Linked DNA regions of Homo sapiens. The protein of the gene in region 3 interacts with the protein of the main gene of each other region in a biochemical or structural test. Each region holds a gene or a part of one and is shown on either strand. Other genes may lie near its edges. The genes, in order: SOX2, WWP2, POU5F1 and NR0B1.

Region 1 (7,763 bases), on a different chromosome or scaffold from region 3:
GCAGATGAACACTTTGCATGTCTAGTTTGCAATTATTCTGATACAAGAAGCATCATTTTTCTCTATAGCCAGGTTTCAAAGGGCCATTGTGCTGTGAAGAAAATGAAAACAAAACCAGCCAACCTGGTTCTGATTTGGCTCAATATCCCATCTGCTAAACTACATGAAAAATTTCAGAATTGAATCCTTTCTGGCAACAAGTGGCATAAATCAGTTTTAAGTATAGGTCCCCATCATGCTTATTCATGCTGCTTAGAAAAGGAGGGGGCGGATTTACAATATATGTCTCTAGTTTCTATTTTAGAAATGACAGAAATTTCAATTTTTCCAGTACTTATTAATCATCCAGCCGTTTCTTTTTTGCAGTTAACATTAGCACATGATGCTGGACTAGTAATACCAAGGTTTTTGGTATTTTGCTTTCTTGGCTGAGCACAGTATTATAATTCCCCGAAAAGTTATGTATAATCACAGTGTTATCCAAATAAATGAAAGACTCAAGAATAATTTCAGTGTCCATATTTCAAAAATTTATTTATCTCAAACTGTGCATAATGGAGTAAAAACTTAAGTTGAAAATGTACCTGTTATAAGGATGATATTAGTTCAAATATATACATGGATTCTCGGCAGACTGATTCAAATAATACAGAGCCGAATCTTTTAAAATACAACTACGGAAAATAAAGGGGGGAAAACCTTAAAATATCACAATAAATTTACAGAAATATTACAAACCATAAGAAAATATTTCAAACACAGTAATTTCATGGTTTTTTTTATCTGAACAAAATGGAAAGTTGGGATCGAACAAAAGCTATTATAAATTACCAACGGTGTCAACCTGCATGGCCATTTTTGCTTTTAACAGTAAGTTATAAAATTTAGTACAGTCTAAAACTTTTGCCCTTTTTAAACAAGACCACAGAGATGGTTCGCCAGTACTTATTCTAATTTTTTCCTTTTGTACAATTTTTAAACAATTAAAATGTCCAAATTTGAATAATTTTCTTCTTTTCACGTTTGCAACTGTCCTAAATTTCAGCTGCAGAATCAAAATTCAGCAAGAAGCCTCTCCTTGAAAAATATTGGCAAATTCTCAGCTTATAAACAATGGACATTTTGATTGCCATGTTTATCTCGATAAATACTGTACAAAAGTTGCTTGCAAATATTAAAACATTTTTTTCGTCGCTTGGAGACTAGCTCTAAATATTATTGGTAAAGACTTTTGCAAACTTCCTGCAAAGCTCCTACCGTACCACTAGAACTTTTAAAAAGTTTTTCGTAGCTTTCTTTCCTCCAGATCTATACAAGGTCCATTCCCCCGCCCTCCCCACCCTCCCCAGGTTTTCTCTGTACAAAAATAGTCCCCCAAAAAGAAGTCCAGGATCTCTCTCATAAAAGTTTTCTTGTCGGCATCGCGGTTTTTGCGTGAGTGTGGATGGGATTGGTGTTCTCTTTTGCAGCTGTCATTTGCTGTGGGTGATGGGATTTTTTTTTTTCCTTTTTCTTTTTGAGCGTACCGGGTTTTCTCCATGCTGTTTCTTACTCTCCTCTTTTGCACCCCTCCCATTTCCCTCGTTTTTCTTTGAAAATTTCTCCCCCCTCCAGTTCGCTGTCCGGCCCTCACATGTGTGAGAGGGGCAGTGTGCCGTTAATGGCCGTGCCGGGCACCGGGCCGCTCTGGTAGTGCTGGGACATGTGAAGTCTGCTGGGGGCGGCGGGTTCCGGCACCTCGGCGCCGGGGAGATACATGCTGATCATGTCCCGGAGGTCCCCGGCCTGGCAGGGCGCCCTGGAGTGGGAGGAAGAGGTAACCACAGGGGGGCTGGAGCTGGCCTCGGACTTGACCACCGAACCCATGGAGCCAAGAGCCATGCCAGGGGTGCCCTGCTGCGAGTAGGACATGCTGTAGGTGGGCGAGCCGTTCATGTAGGTCTGCGAGCTGGTCATGGAGTTGTACTGCAGGGCGCTCACGTCGTAGCGGTGCATGGGCTGCATCTGCGCTGCGCCGTGCGCATTGAGGCCCGGGTGCTGCGGGTAGCCCAGCTGGTCCTGCATCATGCTGTAGCTGCCGTTGCTCCAGCCGTTCATGTGCGCGTAACTGTCCATGCGCTGGTTCACGCCCGCGCCCAGGCCGGCGCCCACCCCGACCCCGCTCGCCATGCTATTGCCGCCGGGGGCCAGCAGCCCGCCGGGCAGCGTGTACTTATCCTTCTTCATGAGCGTCTTGGTTTTCCGCCGGGGCCGGTATTTATAATCCGGGTGCTCCTTCATGTGCAGCGCTCGCAGCCGCTTAGCCTCGTCGATGAACGGCCGCTTCTCCGTCTCCGACAAAAGTTTCCACTCGGCGCCCAGGCGCTTGCTGATCTCCGAGTTGTGCATCTTGGGGTTCTCCTGGGCCATCTTGCGCCGCTGCCCGCGGGACCACACCATGAAGGCATTCATGGGCCGCTTGACGCGGTCCGGGCTGTTTTTCTGGTTGCCGCCGGCCGCCGCCGCGGTGGAGTTGCCGCCGCCGCCCCCCGAAGTTTGCTGCGGGCCCGGCGGCTTCAGCTCCGTCTCCATCATGTTGTACATGCGGGCGCTGTGCGCGGGCCCGGCCCGCCGGCGGCCGCCGACCCTCGGCCCGGCCGGGACTTTGGGGGGCCCGCGGGCGGGGGGAGAGGAGGAGGGGAGGCGGGCGGGGGTGTCGGGAGCGCAGGGCTCCGCGAGGAAAATCAGGCGAAGAATAATTTGGGGGAAAAAAAGAGAGAGGCAAACTGGAATCAGGATCAAAAAAAGCGCTTCCCTCCTCCTCTGGCCGATCCTGCCGCCGCCGATGATTGTTATTATTATTTTTTGGAAAGGCTTAAGCCTGGGGCTCAAACTTCTCTCCCTTTCTTTCTCTCTCCTCTTCTTTCTCTCAGTCCTAGTCTTAAAGAGGCAGCAAACTACTTTCCCCCTTTTGCAAACACTCTCTTCTCTGCCTTGACAACTCCTGATACTTTTTTGAACAAGTTAATAGACAACCATCCATGTGACGGGGGCTGTCAGGGAATAAATGGGTTTCTAGCGACCAATCAGCGCGCGGCGGCTCCTCCACTCGAGCCCAGCCTCGCTGCCGGGTTTTGCATGAAAGGGGGCGGGGCCTCCCGCGCCGCCGGCCGCGCGGGGGAGGCCGGGGGAGGAGGGGGCAGGCGAGGAGGGGGAGGAGGCTCCCAGAGCCAGCCTGCCAGCCACTGAGAAACCTTTGTATCCCCTCTCGCAGCAACAGGTCACACCACACGCCTTTTCGAAGGAAGTGGGTAAACAGCACTAAGACTACGTGGGTTTTTTTTTCTTTAAACTTAATATTGATTTACTTTTTGGTGCAGGGTACTTAAATGAGGATGGGACGCGGGAAGCAGCTAAGGTGCGGGGGTGGGGCAGGGCACAGTGGGTGGCTCAGGGCGGCTGTCCAACTCGTATTTCTGGAAACAGCCAGTGCAGGAGTTGGTGTGTCATTGTTCTCCCGCTCATCCACAGCACTCCCCCCCAACTCCAGCCCCTCTGGTGCCGCTCCCGTACTGCGCTCTTCCGCTCTCCTCTCTTACCTTACAGGTGCCAACACTCTCTCACGCCCTTCTCACAGTCCCGACTAGAAGTTAGGAGACCCAAACCTCTGTCCTCAAAACCTTCCTTGCTTCCACGTAACTTGCTCTGTTCTTAAAAATAAATCCTGCTCGGACCATAAGGCAGACTCTAGAGCTGAGAACCAGCAGGCCTTGGTAAGCTGCCATCTCCCTGTCCAACTCAGCTCTTTGGCCCAGGAAACTGCAGCTCTTCCTCTTAGCCCCAGCCACATCTCCCACTAGACTGTCTTCATTCAACCGTAGCAAAGGGGATGCTTCTACTGTCTGCCCCCACTCCCCATTCCCATCCCATGCCTCCCCGTAAGAAGGGTTTCGGTCGTGCGGCTTTCAAATGGGGGCTGGGGAAAGACACAGACGGAAGGGCGCTCAAAAGTGCAGGCGATGGGGGAGGGTGATTTCAACTTCCTGGCATCCCACGGCACTGTATGGAGGTGGCTTTTGGGCCGCAGTCACAAACTCCCTCCCACGCAGAGTTCCCAGGACTCCAGCAGAACCAGCCCTGGCATTTTCCCCGTAGATTTCCATTGTGGTGGCCGCAAAGCCCAGGCCGCGCAAGGCTGGGGCTGCGCCGCAAAGGGGCTCAAGGCCTGGGAGGCGGGGTCGATGCTCTCCAGGCACAGGTGCAGGCAGCGCACACTGGGAGAAGGCGGCCGGGACTGGGGAAGGGGGAGCCCAGCAAGGCCCGGGTTAGAGGAGGATGAGATGGGGGCGGGGGTAGGGGCTCAGGAATCTTGCCCGCCCAGGACCCAAGAGGGTAATTTTAGCCGCTCTCCCATTGTCCCGACGTAAAGATTTCAATAGGTAGGCGCTCAATGCGGAGGGCAATGGCAGCACGTCCGTTACAAATAGGTAGTTTTGTTTCTCTTGTTGTCGCTACACGGAGTCAAACAAAGCCTCGTCTAAGTTTCCTTCCACTCTCTTGTTGGGATCTTTGTGGCTAAAATGCACTTGACTACAAAGGGTGGGGTGGGGGGGAATAAAGAAAAAAAAACCTGATGCCATTTCTTTTTTATAAAGGGCTTAAACCATCAGGGTTACTTATTTTCTTTCTTCTGTAACACTCTCTCCGCCCCCTCCTCCCCTGGTCTACCCTTACTCACCCTAAGAAAATGTACTGAATAGTATCTACCAGCCACGTTCCATTTATTATCTTTACAAAACGGTGCATTGTTTTGTTCCTTACTAACCTTCTTCCCATAATCACTCCCCCGACCCCCAATTTCTCCAATCTCTGCCCTCCCTAGCCTGTTACTGTCAAACTCACACTAAATATACCCACTGGAAACTCAGAAAAGTTGTAAAAAAAAGAATTCTGCAGACTTTCCTTAAGTTATTTCCAATCAACCTTCCTGCCCCCCGAAGGTTCTCCTTTTTCTCTCAAGTTATGGCTTGTTTTAGTTCTTGGGAACCCGGAAAGGGTGAGATTGGGTTTCTCAAAATGCATACATATTCGGCGCTCTTCAAAATACAGCACTGTTTTCTGTTTAATCCAGGTGTAATATTAAGGTAAACACGGACCTGGAGATTAGGAAAGAGAAAAGGTTGAGAAGATCTGGGGAAGAGAAGGCGGCCACCGGCTTTTCAGCGCGGCTGGTTTCAGGGATGTGGCTGGTGCGCCCCCTGCTGGTAGATTCGCTTTTCCAAGACTATTGCTTTTACCTTTAAAAGAAGGTATTTGAAAATAATTAAAGTAAAAAAAAAAAAAAGAGGGGGATGGAAGATCAGACTAATTATACATAATCTAAACAAAAGAAAAGTTAACATATCTTATAAGCTGCGGAACCAAATCATAAGAATCAGATTTAATTTGCCTAACTTAGAAATATACATACAACCTCGAGGTAAGTGGGAGGTTAGACCATGGGAAAAAATAGGTACAAATTATGAGATTCAACATGTGAATGAATTATGATTGTCCAGACGCCACAAAGGGCAGACCAAGAATTCACTTTATGATTGTGTATGCATCGGTCTGCTTAATAGCATTATTCTAAAAACTTTAAAAAGCTTGTGGATAATTGTTTGAAGAAACAACCAAGGAATTGGTGTGGATAAGGGTGGTGTATATTTGTTAAAATAAATACTAATAACAGACGGTTATAGACACAAATCTTTTAAATCTCGTTGCCTTTCTCTCAAGGCACAATTTTTTTCCTTGGGAGGATATATAACAACTTTTACACATTCTCAGATGCATGTGTTTGTGCATGAACTCTATAATAATGTATTTAAGAGGTTAAAGGGGTTGGCTAGGTCTTTTATTAATTGCTTTTATCACATTAATAAGCTATGGAATTACGTTACAATTGTGTTATCATTGGTTGCATTTATTTACAGCTTTATTTTAATTAAGCCTGCTGTACTTATCGAGACAATAAACTAACTGTGGCTGGCGATTATGCATAATAATGTGCTATGAAAATAAGATTAAAGAAGATGGTGATAGCAGGAACATTTTCTCATTAGATTTTTTAGAACATATGCATTTTAAAAAATCAGATCACTGCCCACTCTATTTCAATCCAGCACCATCACTGATCCCTAAATATAATAACTATAACGATTCCAATAGATGACAGAAGCAACACTGTTTTAGGTTTGTAATAGACAGCTACAGTACTAACAACAATATACCATTGACTACTAGACAATCAAAAAAGACTTGGAACAGGATGCTTCATCCTCTGAGAATCTAAAATGTTGCCATTGGCACAATTTACGAAAATTGAAAGTGCTTAATCTAAAGGGAGTGTAACACTTCCCTTCCACGGGCAACAAAAAGCTACATACTTTTAGAGCAAGATTAGTAGTTAGTAACAAAAATGCATGACTCCTGGAATATTCTGATTTTATTTTGTTCTATTATAGGCCCTAGCCAAAAGGCCTTAACTGTTAAGTGTAACTCAATTTTATTTCAAAATCTTGCACATTGATTTTTCTCTCCTAAAGTCTCCTCAGCACTCCTCAAGTATTATATCTGAAACCAACTAACAATTTTGTGGAGACAGGGGACTGTAGACTTATTTTTTCTTCTTAGTGTCAAATAGAGGTTTAACTTGCAGTAATTAGGTGAGAACTAGCCAAGCATCTTACTATTATGATGCTTGTTAAAAAACGCTTCTTTTCTGCATCTGCATTTGAGTGTGTTCCCCTCCTCTCTTAATCTTCTTATGGAAATGAAGGCAAACGGCAGGGAACCTGCAGAGTCTTGGAGAATGTCCTTGTTAACTGGAATTTCTCAGCATTGCTAATTAGCAGAGTTTGACGACCACCAGTATTGGGGGAAAGCTCTGTTTAACCACTCACAAACCATTCTGAGGAAGAGCAGACTAATTTTATTTTGTAATTAAAATCTGAAAAGGGCCCTATTTGACAGTTAGGGCTATGAGAGTTTTATCTCCCCGTGAAATAATTACTGCCTTGATAACTCAATTTTCTGAAAAATGTCAACTGTAGGCTCCAAAAGTTTTAATTTCATTATGTAAGGAAAAAAGTGAGAAAAATAGAAGAAAATGTACAGAAAGGTTTTCTAATTCTAGAACTGGTTAAATATACAAGCAGCCAGATGTGGTCAAATGAAGGTTTTTTTTTTTCTTCCCTTTTTTGTCATGTTTCCTCCAAATCCTAACCTTCCCACAATCTCCTCTAAAAGTGACCATAGCAGCAATCATACTGCAGTGAAAGAGATCATACCAGTAGTCTGGTAAGTGAAAAGAAAACAAAATTAAAAAGCTAAGTGCAGCAACTGGAGAAAATTTTCTAATTTTAAAGGCCAAAAATAAAGGAAAATTTAAATGTTTAGGACAATGCTGGTACAATTTGGTGAGATGATATTTATATTTATCCTGTAATACAAGAAAATTGAGAATTTCAGAGTAAGGAGACTGGCATAAGCCAATTTTTAAAACATTTCCTTCTCCTCTGTAAGTCACAAAAGATCTCAGTCACTTCAAATTGGAGCATGCTACACGACTTCCGGAATGACCAAAGCTTGATTCTTCATTTCAGAAACAAACACATATAAATGAAGGTAAATAAGTGCATTAGAAGATTTTTTTTCCCTTAAAAGAGCATTGCATACTTTCCAAAAACAATTAACAAGAAATAAGCTGGAAAAGGTTAGGATATAGAAAGTAAGAGCAAAAA
Region 2 (7,037 bases), on a different chromosome or scaffold from region 3:
AAGGCTGGCTAGGGTTTGGGAAAATAAACACCAATTCAGAAGACAAAGCAATCAGGGAGTTCTCTGCAGGATTAAAGTGGAGGCACATCTCTGGTTTTAAACAATTCCTCGGGCCAGTGTGGGTTCAGCACATCTCTATGTGCCCAGCCGAAAAGAAAAGACCAGAGGAGGCTCAAAGACCTTTCAAGTGGCCCATCGCTTAAAAGGACAGGCTTGGAGAGAAAAGAAAGACTCTTAAATCATGTAACACGCTCGCTGGGACGCAACTCTCCCCGCCCCCACCTCTCTCTTAAGCTACATCCACTTTCAGAAAATACTTTCCAGATATCAAGAGAAAAAGGAGCCTTTCTTTCCATGCCATTCATTCGCCACATATGGTACTGCTCTGAATAGAGGCCTTATGAAGGAGGGTCCAATACCACCGCCATGGGCCATGCCACTGACCACAAACAGCAATAAATAGATGAGGATTTATATGTCCGTGACGTAGAGGCACGTTGGCTAATTCAGATGGCGCGTCCATCACGTTCCAACATCCAGTAAATGTTTACTGAGTGCCGAGTAAGCACAGGGCACTATTTGTAATACTATCCCAGACACACACGTGCACACATGCACACAGGCATGCACACACACACATATACGTATACACACAGCTCCTTTGTTCTGTTTTAGGGCTGAGGCTAGAAAAGCAATGATTTAGGCTAGAGGTATTTGACAGTTTCATTCAACATATCACACATCTCCTGCAACGGGAAGAGGAGCAGAGGCAGACAGAAAGTTTCCAGTCCCTAAGGAAGGATAAAGGGCAACACACCACTGCATCACATTACTAGAGGCCCTGGACAAAGAGGGCTAAACTCTGTAGTGGAGGCAGAGAGGAGCCCTCAGCCTTCCCAAAACTCCAAAGACAGCATCCAAGGAGAACAGAGGTACTGCAGCCCCTAGTCCTGGGGGAAATTGCAATACCAGGTTGATCTGCCAGGTCCTCCCATCCCCACCCAAGAATCACGTCGGCACCCCCTTCATCATACGTACTTTTGCCCCCATTGTTCTTCAAGACGTTGGAGAGGTTGACAGATGCGGTGCCTAGCAGTTCATTTCTCAAGGTATGGCAGCTCCAGACCTTTAAATCTAAATGACTCTGTGCCGTGACATTCCTGAAAAACAAATACCTGATTCATTACATCCAAGCAGATCATTCCTATAACTTAGAAGAAAACATTTAAACTAAACTGCTGACATCTTGGGGAGGGGGAACCAAAACAGGCAGACACCCACATATATCCTTTCCCCTCTCAAAGCTGACCCTGTAACCCTCTAGATAATAATGAACGCTCTATGAGCTCAATGGTGTAGGAACACCTAAAAAGAGTCACCTTGGGTACCATAGGTAGAAAAAGTCGGAGGTGCCACAGGGAATCTGTACCTCCCACAACCCCCTCGGAGCACCCTCTCTCTTTCCCCATCTTGCTGCGTTCAAAAAGAAGGGGCTTTCTCTTACAAAATGATGATCTCATTCCAGAGAAGCTCAGAGCTCCCAATGCGCTTCCCAGTCTTCTTGGTCTCACTGGGGAGTCCATCCACCGCCACCTCCACGTAGGAGTTAATTCGAGGTTGACGATTATGCACCTTGGGCTTTGCGGACACCACTGGGAGAGAAAGAAAGAAAAAGTCAAAGATGAGTCCCAGGGCTCCCAGATGCCCCCCTGTGGCAGATGTTCCGGCTCTTTTTAGTTATTGCTTTAAAAAATAAATCAATACATTTTGTTTTGTCTTGATTCTAAAAACTTTTTAAAGAAATGTGAGTACACACACCAAAAAAAATATGAAGTGTAAAAAAAAAAAAAAAATCCCTAACCTGAAACCACTGGGATAACTGCCAGTGATCATCATCACCAATTTATCGTTGGTAAATTGCCTTCCAGATTTTCATCTTTTATTTATTCAATTCTTTAAAAATTCTTCACCCCCATAAGTCACTCTTAAATGACTGCAATACAAGCCCATAATAGGTATATGTTAACTATTCTTTCATTGTCGAATAGACTGCTTGCAATTGTTCGCTCTGGGGAAATTACCGTGAACATATACATCTGCATGCCTTTCTTGAGTATTCCTCCAAAGGATACGAACACTTTTTAAAGTTCTTAAAACTGCCCATTCCTTTCCAAGAAAGGTAAACCCATGTAGCCTCCCATCAGTGCTACAGGAGAATATTCATTTTACCAGACATCACAGAGTGCTAAGGGATATGCTTGTTCACTTTTTGCAAATCCATGGGTTAAAAACGCATGGTGTAAAGACAACAGCTAAGGCCGGGCGTGGCGGCTCATGCCTGGAATCCCAGCACTTTGGGAGGCCAAGGTGGGAGGGCTGCTTCAGCCCAGGAGTTCAAGACCAGCCTGGGAACATAACAAAATTTATAATTTTTTTTTTTTTTCTGAGATAGAGTTTGGCTCTTGTTGCCCAGGCTGGAGTGTAATGCCACAATCTCGGCTCACTGCAACCTCTGCCTCCCAGGTTAAGCAATTCTCCTGCCTTAGCCTCCTGAGTAGCTGGGATTACAGGCGCCCGCCACCGTGCCTGGCTAATTTTTGTATTTTTAGTAGAGACAGGGTTTCACCATGTTGGCCAGGCTGGTCTCAAACTCCTGACCTCAGATGATCTGCCTACCTTGGCCTCCCAAAGTGCTGGGATTACAGGCGTGAGCCACCGCACCTGGCCAATTTATAAATTTTAACTGAAATAAATAAAGATAATATTTAAGATTTTATGAGTACTTATTAAAGACCCTCTGCCATGTGCATACATTTTCTAACTGAATCCTCACAACAAACCCATGAGGCAGGGAATATATCATCACCCCATTTTACCCAGGAGAAAACAGGCTTGAGAGGCAAGGTCACTCTCCCACTCTACATAGCCAGGGAGCTACAAGCCAGACTGTGCACCCGGCCGGTCTGATTCCACATCATGCTGCATATTATTATTGAACTTTACTTATTTGTTCTATTGCTGTTCTTCGATTACCAGCAAGGTTGAATATTTTTGCCATGTGTCGTTAGTCATCTACATTTCTTCTTCCGCTCATAGCCTTCATGTGGCAACAATTCTGATGTTCGTTTGGGACCAGCAAGCCAAAGACTCATGGAGTACAAAGCTACACAAGCATCACACCGAGGAGCTAGACAGACATCCTAGTGTATATTACCCCTGGTGGAAACGCCAGGTCGCTAGGGTAAAACACATCTAGACGTCTCCCATCCTGCCCCAAATCAGAGATACAACTGATGCTCCCTTGCCTGTAATGGCAAGTCTATCCTAGCCTGAGCTTCCCTGTTTGAGTATAAGCAAATCCCTCCCTCCCAGACTCTTCTGAAAGGTGACAGTCCTACAATGGTGTCTACAACTTGGCAAAGGCCAAATTCACCTTCAGATTTTTTATAGCAGTAACTATCTTCCTCTGGCCCCAAAGGAACAGAAGGGAGGAAGACAACAGATAAAAAATCAGCTGTGGCTAAGATTCAGAAGCGACAAGGGAACAGTACTAGGGACAAAGGTTTGTGGTACTGAGGCATGGCCCAGGGTAGAAAAATGAGGTGCAGTGATTTACACACGGACCAAGGTTAACTGAGGCCACCTGGTGGTAAGAGCATGAATCTACATGCCTTTAAAAAATAGGGACTACAAATGGTGCATTACTTAGGACGTTTGACTTTACAGGGGTGCGAAAGCGATATGCATTCAGTAAAAACTGTATTTTAAATTTTGAATTTTGGTCTTTTCGCAGAATAGTCATATGCGGTACTACTGGGCAGCGGCAGTGAGCCGCAACACCAGTCAGCCACGTGATCACAGGGGCAAACAATTGATACTCTGCCGTGTACCCCTTCACCAGATGATCTTGCCTAGCTGCGGGATATCGAAGTGTCCTGAGCACATTTAAGGTAGGCTAGGCTAAGCTATGATGCTCGGCAGATTAGGAGTATCAGATGCATTTTCAACTTGCGATATGTTCAACTTATGATGGGTTTTTCAGGACGTAACCCCACTGTAAGTTGAGAAGTATCTGCGCTCATACACATACACACTTTTTCCTGAAACTCTGAGAGTAAGCTCTAGACATTGTGCCCCTTTACTCCTAAATATTTCTGGGTGTATTTCCCAACAAACACATTTTTTAACATAACCAATAGCACAATTATCAAAATCAGGACATTTAACTTTTTATAATACTAATATTTAATTTACAGACTTTATTCGTATTTTGCCAATTGTCCTATCGATGCCCATCATCGCAAAAAAAAAAAGAAAGAAAAAAAAATTTGTTCTGGTCCAGGCCCCAATCTAGGATCATACTGGCATTTAGTACTCTTATTTTGAAGCAGGGCATGGTGGCTCACGCCTGTAATCCCAGCTCTTTGGGAGGCCGAGGCAGGCAGATCACTTGAGGCCAGGAGTTTGAGACCAGCCTGGGCAACATGGCTAAACCCTGTCTCTACCAAAAATACAAAAACTAGCTGGGCGTGGTGGGGCACAACAGTAGTCCCAGCTACTCAGGAGGCTGAGGCATGAGAACTGTTTGAACCCAGGAGGCGGAGGCTACAGTGAGCTGAGACCACACTCCAGCCTGGGTGATGGAGAGAGACTCTCACAAAAAAAAAAAAAAAAAAAAAAAAAACCTCCTATTTTTAAGTTTCCAATCTATAGAAAAATTGAAATAGAACAATAAATACTGTATACTCTTCACCAATTGTTATCATTTTGCCACATTTGCTTTCTGTTCTATGTGTCTATAGCATCACTACCCAAGAGAACTTCCATGATGACGAAAATGTTCCACATCTGTGCTGCCCAATACATTGCCATGAGACACATGTGGCTATTGACACTTGAAATATGGCTAGTGCAAATAAGGATATGATTTTTAAATGTTATATAATTGTAATTTAAGTGTAAACAGTTCTATGTGGCTACAGTGACTATTCTATTGGACACCAAAGGTTATAGATAAATGCCATCTATGTCTCTGTGTATGTGTGTGTGTGTGTGTGTGTGTGTGTGTGTGTGTATCCGCATTTTTTTTCCTAGGTAAAACCATTAAAAAGTAAGTTGTAGACCGGCTGGAGTGCAGTGGCACGATCACGGCTCACTGCAGCCTCGACCTACCTGGCTGAAGCGATCCTCCCACCTCAGCTTCCTGAGTAGCTGGGACTACCAGTGCGCAACACCACGCCTGGCTAACTTTTTAATTTTTTTTGTAGAGACGGGATTTCACCCCATTGGCCAGGCTGATCTCGAACTCCTGGGCTCAAGGAATCCACCTGGACTCAAGCGATCTACCCGCCAGAGCTTTCCAAAATGCTGGGATTACAAACATGAGCTACTGCCCAGTCCCCAGACATATTTTTAAAGCCATTTTTCCCCCAATTCAGTACCTAATCAATATATACAAATTGCCTGTGGCTACTATCTCCTTAATCTTTTAAAATCTAGAACATCCTCCCTTCTTTTCCATGGCAATGATTTTTGTTTGTTTAACTTTTTGGTTTTTTTCTTTTATAATCCCAGCAGCTTTGCCAAGGCAACAATGATTTTTAAAGACTTCCACCAGCTGTTTTAAAGAATGCAGCAAATTCTACATTTTTCTAATTGTGAAACTGCCTTTGCAAAATTATGACAGAGAAATCGGACATAGTTGATTCCATCTTACTTCTGATTTCTAGGCTGTCCTTGGTCATTCCTGGGCATGGGCCAAGCTAATTTTGGGAGAAATTTAGTTTATAGTTTCTTTTTTTTTTTGAGACCGGGTCTCCCTCTGCTGCCCAGGCTGGAGTGCAGTGGTGCAATCTCATCTCGCTGCAGCCTCCACCTCTGGGGCTCAAGCGATCTTCCCACCTCAGCCTCTCAAGTAGCTGGGACTACAGGTGTGAGCCACCATGCCTGGCTCATATTTGTATTTTTTGTAGAGACAGGGTTTCCATGTTGCCCAGGCTGGTCTCAAACTTTAAGCCTGAGCTCAAAGTCATCCACCCGCCTCAGCCTCCTAAAGTACTGGGATTACAGGCATGAGCCACCACACCCAGCCTATAGTTTAATCTTAAAGCAAGGATAGCTGGGCATGGTGGCTTATGCCTGTAATCCCAGCACTTTGGGAGGCTAAGGGAGGTAGATCACTTGAGACCAGGAGTTTGAAACCAGCCTGGCCAACTTGGTGAAACCCCGTCTCTACTACAAGTACAAAACTTAGCCGGGCGTGGTGGCGCACGCCTGTAGTTCCAGCTATTCAGGAGGCTAAGACACGAGAATCGCTTGAACCCAGGAGGCAGAAAGTGCAGTAAGCTGAGATTGTCCAACGCACTCCAGCCTGGGTAACAGAGCAAGACCCTGTCTCAAAAAAAAAAAAAAAAAAAAAAAAAGCAAGGATAATAACAGCCCTTCCCAAAACGAAACCACCTTTGTAAAACTAATCAACAGCCACAAGGTTAGGATTATGGGAGGGGCTTGAATTCTAATAAGAGGTAGGTATAGTTTCTATAATCCCTTACTGCTCAGGAGTCATGAAGCCAGAGGTCACAAGATTTGTGACTTCCCCAATTGCTCCCATAGATAACATCGCTATTGCAGAACCTAAGGTTGGTCTTTTGAGATTTTTTCTTTCTGGCAATCTACTGACTTTGCCTGGGCCCGTGACTTGACTCGTGAAACAAATTATCCTGTGGCCCCACCCAGAAGTGGACTCAGCACAGGACCATTTTCCACACCTCTATAATCTCATCCCCAACCAATAAGCAGCACCCATTCCCTAGTCCCCTACCTGTCAAATTGTCTATAAAAACCCTAATCTCTGAGCCTCCAGGAAGACTGATCTGAGTGATAACTCTGTCTCCCATATGGCCTGTTTTGTGTCAATTAAACTCTTTCTCTAATGCAATGCTACAGTCCCAGTGAATTTATTTATTTATTATTATTATTTTTTTAGATGGAGTCTTGCTCTGTCACCCAGGCTGGAGTGCAGTGGTGCAATCTTGACT
Region 3 (6,961 bases):
AGCCTGAGGGACAGAGTGAGACTCCATCTCAAAAATTAAAAAAAAAATAAAGCAGTCTATAGGAGTAGGGTAAAGGAGGGAAGGAGATTATGGAGGAGGGTGACACTTTTAAAGACAGAGAAGGTGATTGTTTGAGCAAAGGACAAGAGTCTAATGTGGCAAGGCCCTGAAGTGGGCCTTCCAGAGCCCAAAGCTGGTCTGGTGGCTAGGTAGATCCTGTTGCAGACATAGTGACTTTGTTTTAGTCCAAGCGAAATGATCTCTCACCCTTTTTCTCCCCACCAAGACGGAATCTCGTTCTATCGCCCAGGCTGGAGTGCTGTGGCGTGATCTTGGCTCACTGCAATCTCCGCCTTCTGGGTTCAAGCTATTCTGCCTCAGCCGCCTGAGTAGCTGGGACTACAGGCACCCACCACCATGCCCGGCTAATTTTTGTATTTTTAGTAGATATGGGGTTTCACCATGTTGGCCAGGCTGGTCAGGAGACCTCAAGTGATCTGTCCACCTTGGCCTCCCAAAGTGCTGGGATTACAGGTGTGAACCACCGCACCTAGCCTCACCTTTTTTTTTTTTTTTTTTGAGAGTTTCGCTTTTGTTGCCTAGGCTGGAGTGCACTGGCGCGATCTCGGCTCACCGCAACCTCCATCTCCCAGGTTCAAGCGATTCTCCTGCCTCAGCTTCCTGAGTAGCTGAGATTACAGGCATGCGTCACCACGCCCAGCTAATTTTGTATTTTTAGTAGAGATGGGGTTTCGCCATGTTGGTCAGGCTGGACTCGAACTCCCGACCTCAGGTGATTCGCCTGCCTCGGCCTCCCAAAGTGCCTGGCCACACCTTTTAAAACACTGACTCTAGTTGACGTGTTGGCCACAGACAGTAGGGAGGAAGCAGTATAATTTGAGAAGCTACTGCGGTAATCCCAGCAGAGATGATGGTGGCTGAGGCCAGGGTTAGGTTGTGATTGATTCAGGATGTTTCTTAAGGATAGGATGTAGGACATGAAAGAAACTGAGGATGACTGGGTTTGGCCTTGAGCAACTGGGTGATCAGGGTGGAGCAGTTCAGGGAGCCATCACAAGAGACAGAAAACGCGGTAGTCATCTGGTGTCTAAATGGCATTTAAGCCTTGAGGGTGGGTGAGAGGAAGGAAGGGTAGATAGAGCAGAGGTTGAAGGACTGAGCCCTGGGGCATGCCATATGAGGCTGCCGGCAGACAGAGGTGCACAGCTAGTGAGAAAAAAACAAGGCCTTTTTGTAGTTCTGAAGCCTCAAGGAAGTGTTTCAATGGTGCTTGATCATATCAATTTCAAATAGGCTGTTTTCATCCCCAACTTCTGCTCAGCCAATAACTCAAACTGATAAATGCCCTCTGCTATCTTGGATTTTCCAAATTCTGTTTTGGGGTTTTGGAATAAACACTGGTCCAAATCCTCGCTTCATCATTTAGCAGTTAAAACCCGTTAAATAGGATAATAATACCTCCCCCTAGGAGATTTTGTGCTGGTTAATGAGATAATGATGTATAAACGGAGCACACAGCCAGGCACTTAGGAAGTGGACCACAATTGCCAGCCATTATCATTCAAGGCTCAGCAGTGACCTCCTGCGAAGAGGTTGGGGCTTCTCGGTCACTCCAGAAACCAGTCACACCTTTCTGTGAGGTCTCAAGGCTTAGTATTTAATCTCTAATTGCTTACACTTGTCGCCTTGAAGGACTGGAAGATACATCTTTAATAGTCCTCAGCAGGGCTGGATGCCTTCAATCCCGCAGCAGCTCTATATTTGCAAATGGCCTGGAGAAATCTCTCACCATTTTTCTTGTTTACAACTTTGGAACTGAGGCTGAAGTCAATCAAAATCCAGCTTTCTACAAGGGGTGCCAGGGTGTGCACCTTAACACAGTGGCCAGTCATTGGCCTGAGGCAGAGATCCGGGGAAGACAAGCCCTATACTTGACTGGAGGTAAACCCAGCTCACAACGCGCACACACACAGCCCAAACAGGAGATCCTATCAGAAACGAGTCACACCCTAGACTTTCAGGAACAATAATCCTGGAATGAGCACTGTTTTTACCCTCAGGCTATGCTTAACCCTAAGGCCAAAATCTTGGGTCTGATAAGGGTCAAATTTTCAAGCAGGACTAAGGGTGGGAAAAGGGGCTCAAACCAACCCCAAGCTGGGTCTGGTGCTGGGCCAGTAATGAGTGACCAGACCCTGGGCAGGCCTAGGAGATGTGAGAGACCCTGACAAGGGCTGGGCCAGAGCAAAGGCCAGCCTGGGCCAGCTTCCGACTCTCCCAGGCTGCTCTGCCCTCACCGGCAGTTGTCTCTTCGAAATCCAGCTTCCACTTCCCACCTGGCCCCTGCCTGCCAGGGCTGCCAGCAGTTGATACACACCCCTCCCTGGCCAGGGCAGCTGACCCTGCCTGCTCCTCTCCTGGGTGCCAGGTCTGGGCAGCTGCAGGTGACCACTTCCCCATCAGGCTGCCCTGTCATGACCACCTCCCCACACCCCAACCCCGTCGAAGCTCACTTGCCTCCTCCGGGTTTTGCTCCAGCTTCTCCTTCTCCAGCTTCACGGCACCAGGGGTGACGGTGCAGGGCTCCGGGGAGGCCCCATCGGAGTTGCTCTCCACCCCGACTCCTGCTTCGCCCTCAGGCTGAGAGGTCTCCAAGCCGCCTTGGGGCACTAGCCCCACTCCAACCTGGGGCCCACAGTACGCCATCCCCCCACAGAACTCATACGGCGGGGGGCATGGGGGAATCCCCCACACCTCAGAGCCTGGCCCAACCCCCGGCCCGATTCCTGGCCCTCCAGGAGGGCCTTGGAAGCTTAGCCAGGTCCGAGGATCAACCCAGCCCGGCTCCGGCCCCCCTGGCCCATCACCTCCACCACCTGGAGGGGGCGAGAAGGCGAAATCCGAAGCCAGGTGTCCCGCCATGGGGAAGGAAGGCGCCCCAAGCCGGGGGCCTGGTGAAATGAGGGCTTGCGAAGGGACTACTCAACCCCTCTCTCCCTCCCCAGTCCCACCCACTAGCCTTGACCTCTGGCCCCGCCCCCTGGATGGGTGGAGGAGAGGGAGGTGGGGGGAGAAACTGAGGCGAAGGATGTTTGCCTAATGGTGGTGGCAATGGTGTCTGTGGAAGGGGAAAACCGGGAGACACAACTGGCGCCCCTCCAGGACCTCAGTGCAGGTCCCCCACAGAAACTTTTTTTATTTTTATTTTTTAAGACAGGGTCTCACTTTGTTGCCCAGACTGGAGTGCAGTGGAGTACAATGATGGCTCAATGTAGCCTCGATCTACTGGGCCAAAGCAATCCTTCTGCTCCAGCCTCCTAAGTGGCTGGGACTACAGGCTTGGACCACTGTGCCCTGTTAGTTTTTTTATTTTTAGTAGAGATGGGGCCTTGCTATGTTACCCAGGCTGGTCTTGAATTCCTGTCCTCAAGAAATCCTCCCGCCTCTGCCGCCCAGTGTCATGATTAAAGGCGTGAGCCACCACACCCAACTTTCAACTCCCAACCCGCTCCCTGGCACTCTCTCAGGCTCTGCACATCCCAGCTGTCTGGAATCACTCCCACACCTCCATGTTCTTCAGGAACCCAGGTGCTTGACCCCCTCTCCACAGACCTCTGGCACTGTGCCTTCAGGGGCCAGTCACCCTCTCAGCTCCTCAAATTTATTGAATGTGTGTGTGGCGCTATCCCTCAATGCATCAACAGCCATAAGCACAATGGCCAGCTGCTCCCTTATGCCTTCCCCCGATCCATCCAGAATCCTAGGCATTCCCATCCCGATACTGGCCAAATCCAGCCACCCCGCAGCCTGGGTGCCTGGCACCATCTGCCCAGCCTGCCAAATTTCACCCCATCTTCAAGAGTAGACTGCCAGACAAGGCCTCCGTGCTATATCCCCCCACCCCCCCATCCCCCCACCCCTCCGTCTTCCAGAATCAGACTCCAGACTCTCCTCATCTAACAGACTAAGGGGTTGGTCCCTACTTCCCCTTCAAGGGACCAGACTTTGGACTGACTGGGCCTCAGTTTCCCAACCTTTGCTGAAACAGAGTGATAAGACACCCGCTTTGGGCCCCCTCCACTATGGAACCTGCACATCAGGTTCCTTGCTCCCCTCTCAACCAAAACTCAGACATCTAATACCACGGTAGGCCCCGTTCTCCCTCCCCCACCTCCCTGGCCCAGGCCTCCAGCCCTAGGCCCTGGGTGGGGAAAACCAGGGGGTGGGGGGTGTGGAGAAAAAATATCTGACTTCAGGTTCAAAGAAGCCTGGGAGGGACTGGGGGAAGGGGGCAGGACAATGGCCTTGGCTGGACAATCCCGGTCCCCAGAGGGGGCAGCTCTAACCCTAAACAAGTGCTCAACCCTTGAATGGGCCTGGATGGCTCCCCTGGGGACTGCTTCCTGCTCCCCAACCCCCCAGTCCCAATCCCCTCACACAGAATCCCCTTCAGAGACGCTAAAAGGAGCTCCAGCAACCCCCCTCTGCAATCCCCTCAAAGACTGAGCCTCAGACGGGCACCAAGGGCCCCCCACAGGGACCTAGGTATCTAGTTCCTCCTTCCTCTGGGGGACTCAGGCGTCCAGCTTCATCGTGCGTCCCTCCCCGAGCCTGGCAGATTGAGGGATGTGCTTTGTTTAGTGGGGCTGGCTGGCAGAAAGACGCAGAGGAGGTGGAGAGTGATTTGTGGAGGCGTGCAGGAAGGCTGCCCTAAGCTCCCCTTCAGGGTCTGTTTTTCTGGGCCTGGCCTGAGTATCCTGAGGCTCATGCTGCTGGTCTAGTGCTTGATTCTGTTTGCAAGAGAATAGCCAACGGAATGCCTGTCTGTGAGGGATGATGTTTGTCTGTCTGCTCCCAAAACTTGATCTCAGTGGAGGGCCTGGGGTAAGTCTGGGGGCTCCAGAGGGGGCTCTGGGCCAGGGCTCCCCACAGCTTCGAAGGCCAGAAGGCCAGGTCTGGACTGGGCACGCTGACCTCTGTCGACTTAAGTAAGGCTTCTCATTGCAGGCTCCAGGCTCAGCCCTGCCTGGGCTTGTCTGCTGGGGTCAGTGGCTCTATCTGCCTTCTAAGGGGATGGGTGTCCCGTGGCCAGCTGTCTTCATCTTGGTGGCATCCGTGAGTCTTTTGAGACTTTTCCCCCACTCTTATGTTGCCTCTGTTCGTGTGCCCATCTCCTGTCTGTGTAGACTTTTTGAGCCTAATTGTATGCGTGCATTTCAATACCTGCCACAGGTCTGCCGGAAGGTCTACAAGGCAGTGGGGTTGCAGCTGTGTTCACTTCTCGGCCTTTAACTGCCCAAAAGGCAGGTAGATTATGGGGCCTGGTGGGGGTGGGAGGAACATGCTTCGGAACAGGAGGAGGCCCCTCCCCAGCCATCTCAATCCCCAGGACAGAACCATCACGGCACCTTTGTCATGCATCTCTCTGCTGTCTGCCAAGAAGACGGCCTCTCAGAGGAGGGGGAGGGGCAGGCCTGGGATTTGGCTGGAATCTCCACACCAGTGTTTCTCAGCTTGCCATCCTCCAGGTTCCCCAAAAGCGCTCTTCCCAAGCCAGTCCAGAGAGTCCCTGCTGCCCATTTTCCTAGTGGCTCCTAAAACACCTTCCCCAATTTCCCCACTCAACACCACCCTCTTGTTTTTAGATTATAATTTGTACTGTAGGTGGTGTATTTCTGGCCTGGGCAAGAGGCCCATTCCCGAGAGGGACGCAGACAAGGGGTGGGTGCCTGGATCCCTGGCTGCCTTGTGGCTGGATATGAGCCCAGTCAGGGGTCAGCCTCCTGCATGCCTAGACTCCTAGCCGGCCCCCTTCTGGGGTGCTCAGGGCTGATGGGAGGTTGAGGCAGGCTTTCCTTCCTTCTCACTGTCCTGTTATGCCTGAAGGGTAGGTGGCTTCACTTCAGCCAAGGCCAGCTCTCCCAGGCCCCAACCAGTGCTGGGGGCCACCGTTGGGCCTGGAGGAGACTGGAAGCCAGGCTGAGTCATCAGAACTGGTCCCATGATTCCCTGGGTTTTAGAAAGTCACCATAAAAAGATACTTCACACACACCTTTATTATTACAGTGCAATGTCAAGACCCTTCACAGAGCACTGCCAGGGGACCCAGGTGAGGCCCACCTCTCCCCACCAGGTGAGGCGGCTGGCATGGCTGGGTGGGGAGAGGTGAGATGAGCAGCCTTGCTGCTCTCAGCCCAGCCTTCCCTTCCCCTCACTGGGAGATGAGGTGCTGTTTGGTTGAAAAACCAGCTGAAAAAACTCAGTTGGGACCAATAGAGACTTGCTCTCGACCCGGTCTAGGAAACCACTTATTTTGACTTCCGAGGCCTGTCAATCTGAAGGCAAAAGAAAGGGAAGAAACGGAGGGCTGAGGGTTCAGGCTTGGCCCACCTTGGGAGATGATCTCCCTTAATAGCAATTTAGACAAATTCCTTTGCTCACTGTGGACCAAGTCCCCTCTTCTCAACAAAGGACCCTCTGATCTCCCCCATGAGCCCTGCAAACTGAGGTCACCTTATCCCAAATCCAGACACTCTTACCTCAAATAGAGGAGTCAACTCTCTAGCTGTAGCCTGTAGGGAGTCAGAGGTGAGAGCAAAAGGAGTGGGTGAGCTGGGAGGATTGGTCAGGAACAAACTAGGAGGCATGGACCAGGTTCTAAGTCCTGGCTCTGACTCCCTGGCTAATGGCACCTCCCCCTCCTGTGCCTCAGTTTCCTCACCTAGTAAAGAGGATTTGGACTCAATGAACTCTAAACTTCCTTCCAACTCAGACATAAAATTGCTGCCCCGCTCTCATATGCCCTCCCATCTACCCACCCCCCTTACTTGACATGGGAATGTAGACTTCTCTGCACACCTGTGAAGAGAAATGGGGGTAGGAAAGCTGGGAGTGGTGTTCAATGAGAAGTTGGCATAGGCCTCCCTGTACCCTGCCACCT
Region 4 (2,722 bases), on a different chromosome or scaffold from region 3:
TAGTAGCCTTGATTTTATCTGGACACAAAGAAAAATTAGTTCTATGGATTATAATTAAAGGGGCAGCAGGAGATAACAATAAAGTTGCTTTATGATTTCATGCCATGTTGTTCAATATACCAGTTACAAACGTAATGTATCTAAAAGATGAAGTGTAATTAGTGGTTTTATAATGATGTTGAGCTTTCTGGAACTATAACCCCTCATTATAGAATGTATGTTCCTTGTGGATCTTTAAATCCATAACTGTGTACCAAAAAGATCCCCCAATAAAACAGAAAATCTCCTCTTTCACTTCTGCATGTCTTTATAATTACAGATTGCTTCTTGACTCCAGTTGGATGCAAACGCAGTCTTCCATACAGCTGAGGGAAGTGGAAATGAAGATAGAGCAAAGTGACCTCCCACTGATACTGGCACATAATTACATTCAATGTCATGTTGTTACTTCCAAAGATACTTTTTGCTTATGTTGGCTAGGTTTTAATAGTTTTTGAGGCCTTACTTAAACCCTGCTGAAGCTTTTTTCAATCAAGTTAATAGTTAAGACCTTAAAATTTATTATAACAATATGTACAAATTTGATTTGAGCAGGTTCCATGAAATTGCTACACTTGTGAAAATAGCTTATTATACTAGTACCCTGCTATTTTTTTTTTAAAAGATGTACAGAGCTATGCTACCTGTTGGCAAATGTCTTCTTTAACTATGGAACAGAGAAATTTGTGACTGTCTGGAATAAAATTATTTCTTTAATTGAATACAAAAATACTCTGCATGTAAAAATATTAAGAAAGTTTATTTTAAAATATTTTACACTCTTTTGCCCACAGCTCTTTATTCTTCCCTCATGGTGAACTGCACTACTGCACTTGTGTGGCCCACATGACTTTATATCTTTGTACAGAGCATTTCCAGCATCATATCATCCATGCTGACTGTGCCGATGATGGGCCTGAAGAACAGTTCAGCAATGACATTGGCATTGATGAATCTCAGCAGGAAAAGGGTACTATTAAGTTCGATGAATCTGTCATGGGGCCCTTGGTGCGTCATCCTGGTGTGTTCACTGAGTATTTGCTGAGTTCCCCACTGGAGTCCCTGAATGTACTTCACGCACTGCAGGCCCGGCACGTCTGGAGGGAGAAAAATCTCTTTGTTATAAAACAGCTCACCACAGAGTCCTTTGCTAGCTTTTTAAAAATAGCCATTTCTGTTTCATCCCAATTAAACAAGACCCAAAGCTTCCCGGTTAAAAGGGTAAAAGGCCAAACCAGTCTACGTTTTCAGAAGCAACGTGTCCAAGAATGAAACATCATGTGATCTTACTTAATATTTACTATGTTTCTATGCACACGTTTGCAAATACACTGGCCATGAGCCAACAAACGCACACAATTTAATATGACAGTAGAATACGGTTTAATGAATCATCACTCCAGTTCACTTTCTATGCAAATATGAAGAAGTTCATGATATTTCAAGAGGTGGGCACTTTACCTATGAGAAACAAGCCATGATAAACAAGAAGTGTTGCCATGAGACAAATGTTTTTACCATTCTTCTTTGAACTTTCCATCATTACACTGATCGTTCAGCCAATGGTGGTAAACTTCACAGCCACAAACTTTGACGCACAGTTTCATTTTACCTATTTGCCTGCAGGCCAATATTAGTCTAGAGGCCCGAATAATTTGAAAGCTAACACTGGCCACTTAGCTCATTGCACCATGATTTCTGTATTGGGGAAGATTTTGAAAAAAATAAAAGAATGATTCTAATGAGTGTTCAAAAAGGCTCTTTTCAAAAATATTAAAGTAAGAAGTTTTTGAAAATTCTTATAGTCATTAAAAGTTTAAAAAGTAAACATGAAAACATCACGAATTGTACCATGATTCAAGAATAACTTTTGTAATAGAAAACACATGACCTTTTGCAGTATAGTGTGATACCGAAGTAAAAGTGAAAGAAATAAATGCAGGAAAGTTTAAGTGGATGTAAGTTTTTATAAGGAAAGTAATAAGAGGAGGCTGCTTTTGAAGGTCCTTTGATCTTCCATGATGATAATATCGTTGCAAAGTTCTTTAACTTGTATTCAAGTAATTAGCAGTTGACCACTTGGTTTAAATGATGTTAATGATGATTGCAATCATTTTCCTTCCCTTTTCCTAAAAAATTCAACAGAAAAGTATTTTAAAAGCACCATGCCAATCATCACAGAGCAGCAGAACCAGTGTTCTTTAAAAAAATAATAATGGTAATAAGCGAGAGGCACTCCTATTATGGGCGAATATCAAATCTCATAAATAAGAACAAAAATAAAGCAACCATTTTAATCCATATTCCAGTTCTGATTACTCTAGTCCACACATTATCATCCCCTTCTATCTACAGCTTGAGATCCAGGCTTAAGACCCAATTTTGTTGTGTTTGAATTCCATCGATGAAAGTAGGAAGAGGCTTGCATGAAACTCCACCAGAAATCTGAAGCTTCTCTAGGTCTAGATTCATGGCTTGTGAAAACTTCATCTTGTGTATGCCACATTACTTTTCTCTGTGTTCACAATATACCCCTCCACCTTCTCCCCACCCAAGTGGTTCCCCCCCACACAGAGACACACAAACTGGCCTTCAAAATAAGGTCAGGGAAGAGAAAATGCAAATGGACTCCACAGTTTTATATCTCCTTAAGTTTGAACCTATATATATAATGTATTTAAAT

The links.
Region 1: the proteins of POU5F1 (region 3) and SOX2 form a complex in vitro, tested with the Homo sapiens proteins (one study listed by BioGRID).
Region 2: of the proteins of POU5F1 (region 3) and WWP2, one has a biochemical effect on the other in vitro, tested with the Homo sapiens proteins (2 studies listed by BioGRID and IntAct, with this or other methods).
Region 4: the proteins of POU5F1 (region 3) and NR0B1 form a complex in vitro, tested with the Homo sapiens proteins (one study listed by BioGRID).

Annotation. Positions count from the first base shown.
Region 1 is NC_000003.12:181,707,181-181,714,943, reverse strand, and holds SOX2 (transcription factor SOX-2), read right to left. Parts: upstream 3,020-7,763; 5' UTR 2,584-3,019; coding exon 1,630-2,583; 3' UTR 508-1,629; downstream 1-507. UniProt on the Homo sapiens protein: Transcription factor that forms a trimeric complex with OCT4 on DNA and controls the expression of a number of genes involved in embryonic development such as YES1, FGF4, UTF1 and ZFP206. Binds to the proximal enhancer region of NANOG.
Region 2 is NC_000016.10:69,793,297-69,800,333, reverse strand, and holds part of WWP2 (NEDD4-like E3 ubiquitin-protein ligase WWP2), read right to left. Parts: intron 1,653-7,037; coding exon 1,505-1,652; intron 1,161-1,504; coding exon 1,039-1,160; intron 1-1,038. UniProt on the Homo sapiens protein: E3 ubiquitin-protein ligase which accepts ubiquitin from an E2 ubiquitin-conjugating enzyme in the form of a thioester and then directly transfers the ubiquitin to targeted substrates.
Region 3 is NC_000006.12:31,167,678-31,174,638, forward strand, and holds the start of POU5F1 (POU domain, class 5, transcription factor 1), read right to left. Parts: upstream 3,006-6,961; 5' UTR 2,944-3,005; coding exon 2,539-2,943; intron 1-2,538. UniProt on the Homo sapiens protein: Transcription factor that binds to the octamer motif (5'-ATTTGCAT-3'). Forms a trimeric complex with SOX2 or SOX15 on DNA and controls the expression of a number of genes involved in embryonic development such as YES1, FGF4, UTF1 and ZFP206.
Region 4 is NC_000023.11:30,303,688-30,306,409, forward strand, and holds the end of NR0B1 (nuclear receptor subfamily 0 group B member 1), read right to left. Parts: intron 1,137-2,722; coding exon 892-1,136; 3' UTR 519-891; downstream 1-518. UniProt on the Homo sapiens protein: Nuclear receptor that lacks a DNA-binding domain and acts as a corepressor that inhibits the transcriptional activity of other nuclear receptors through heterodimeric interactions.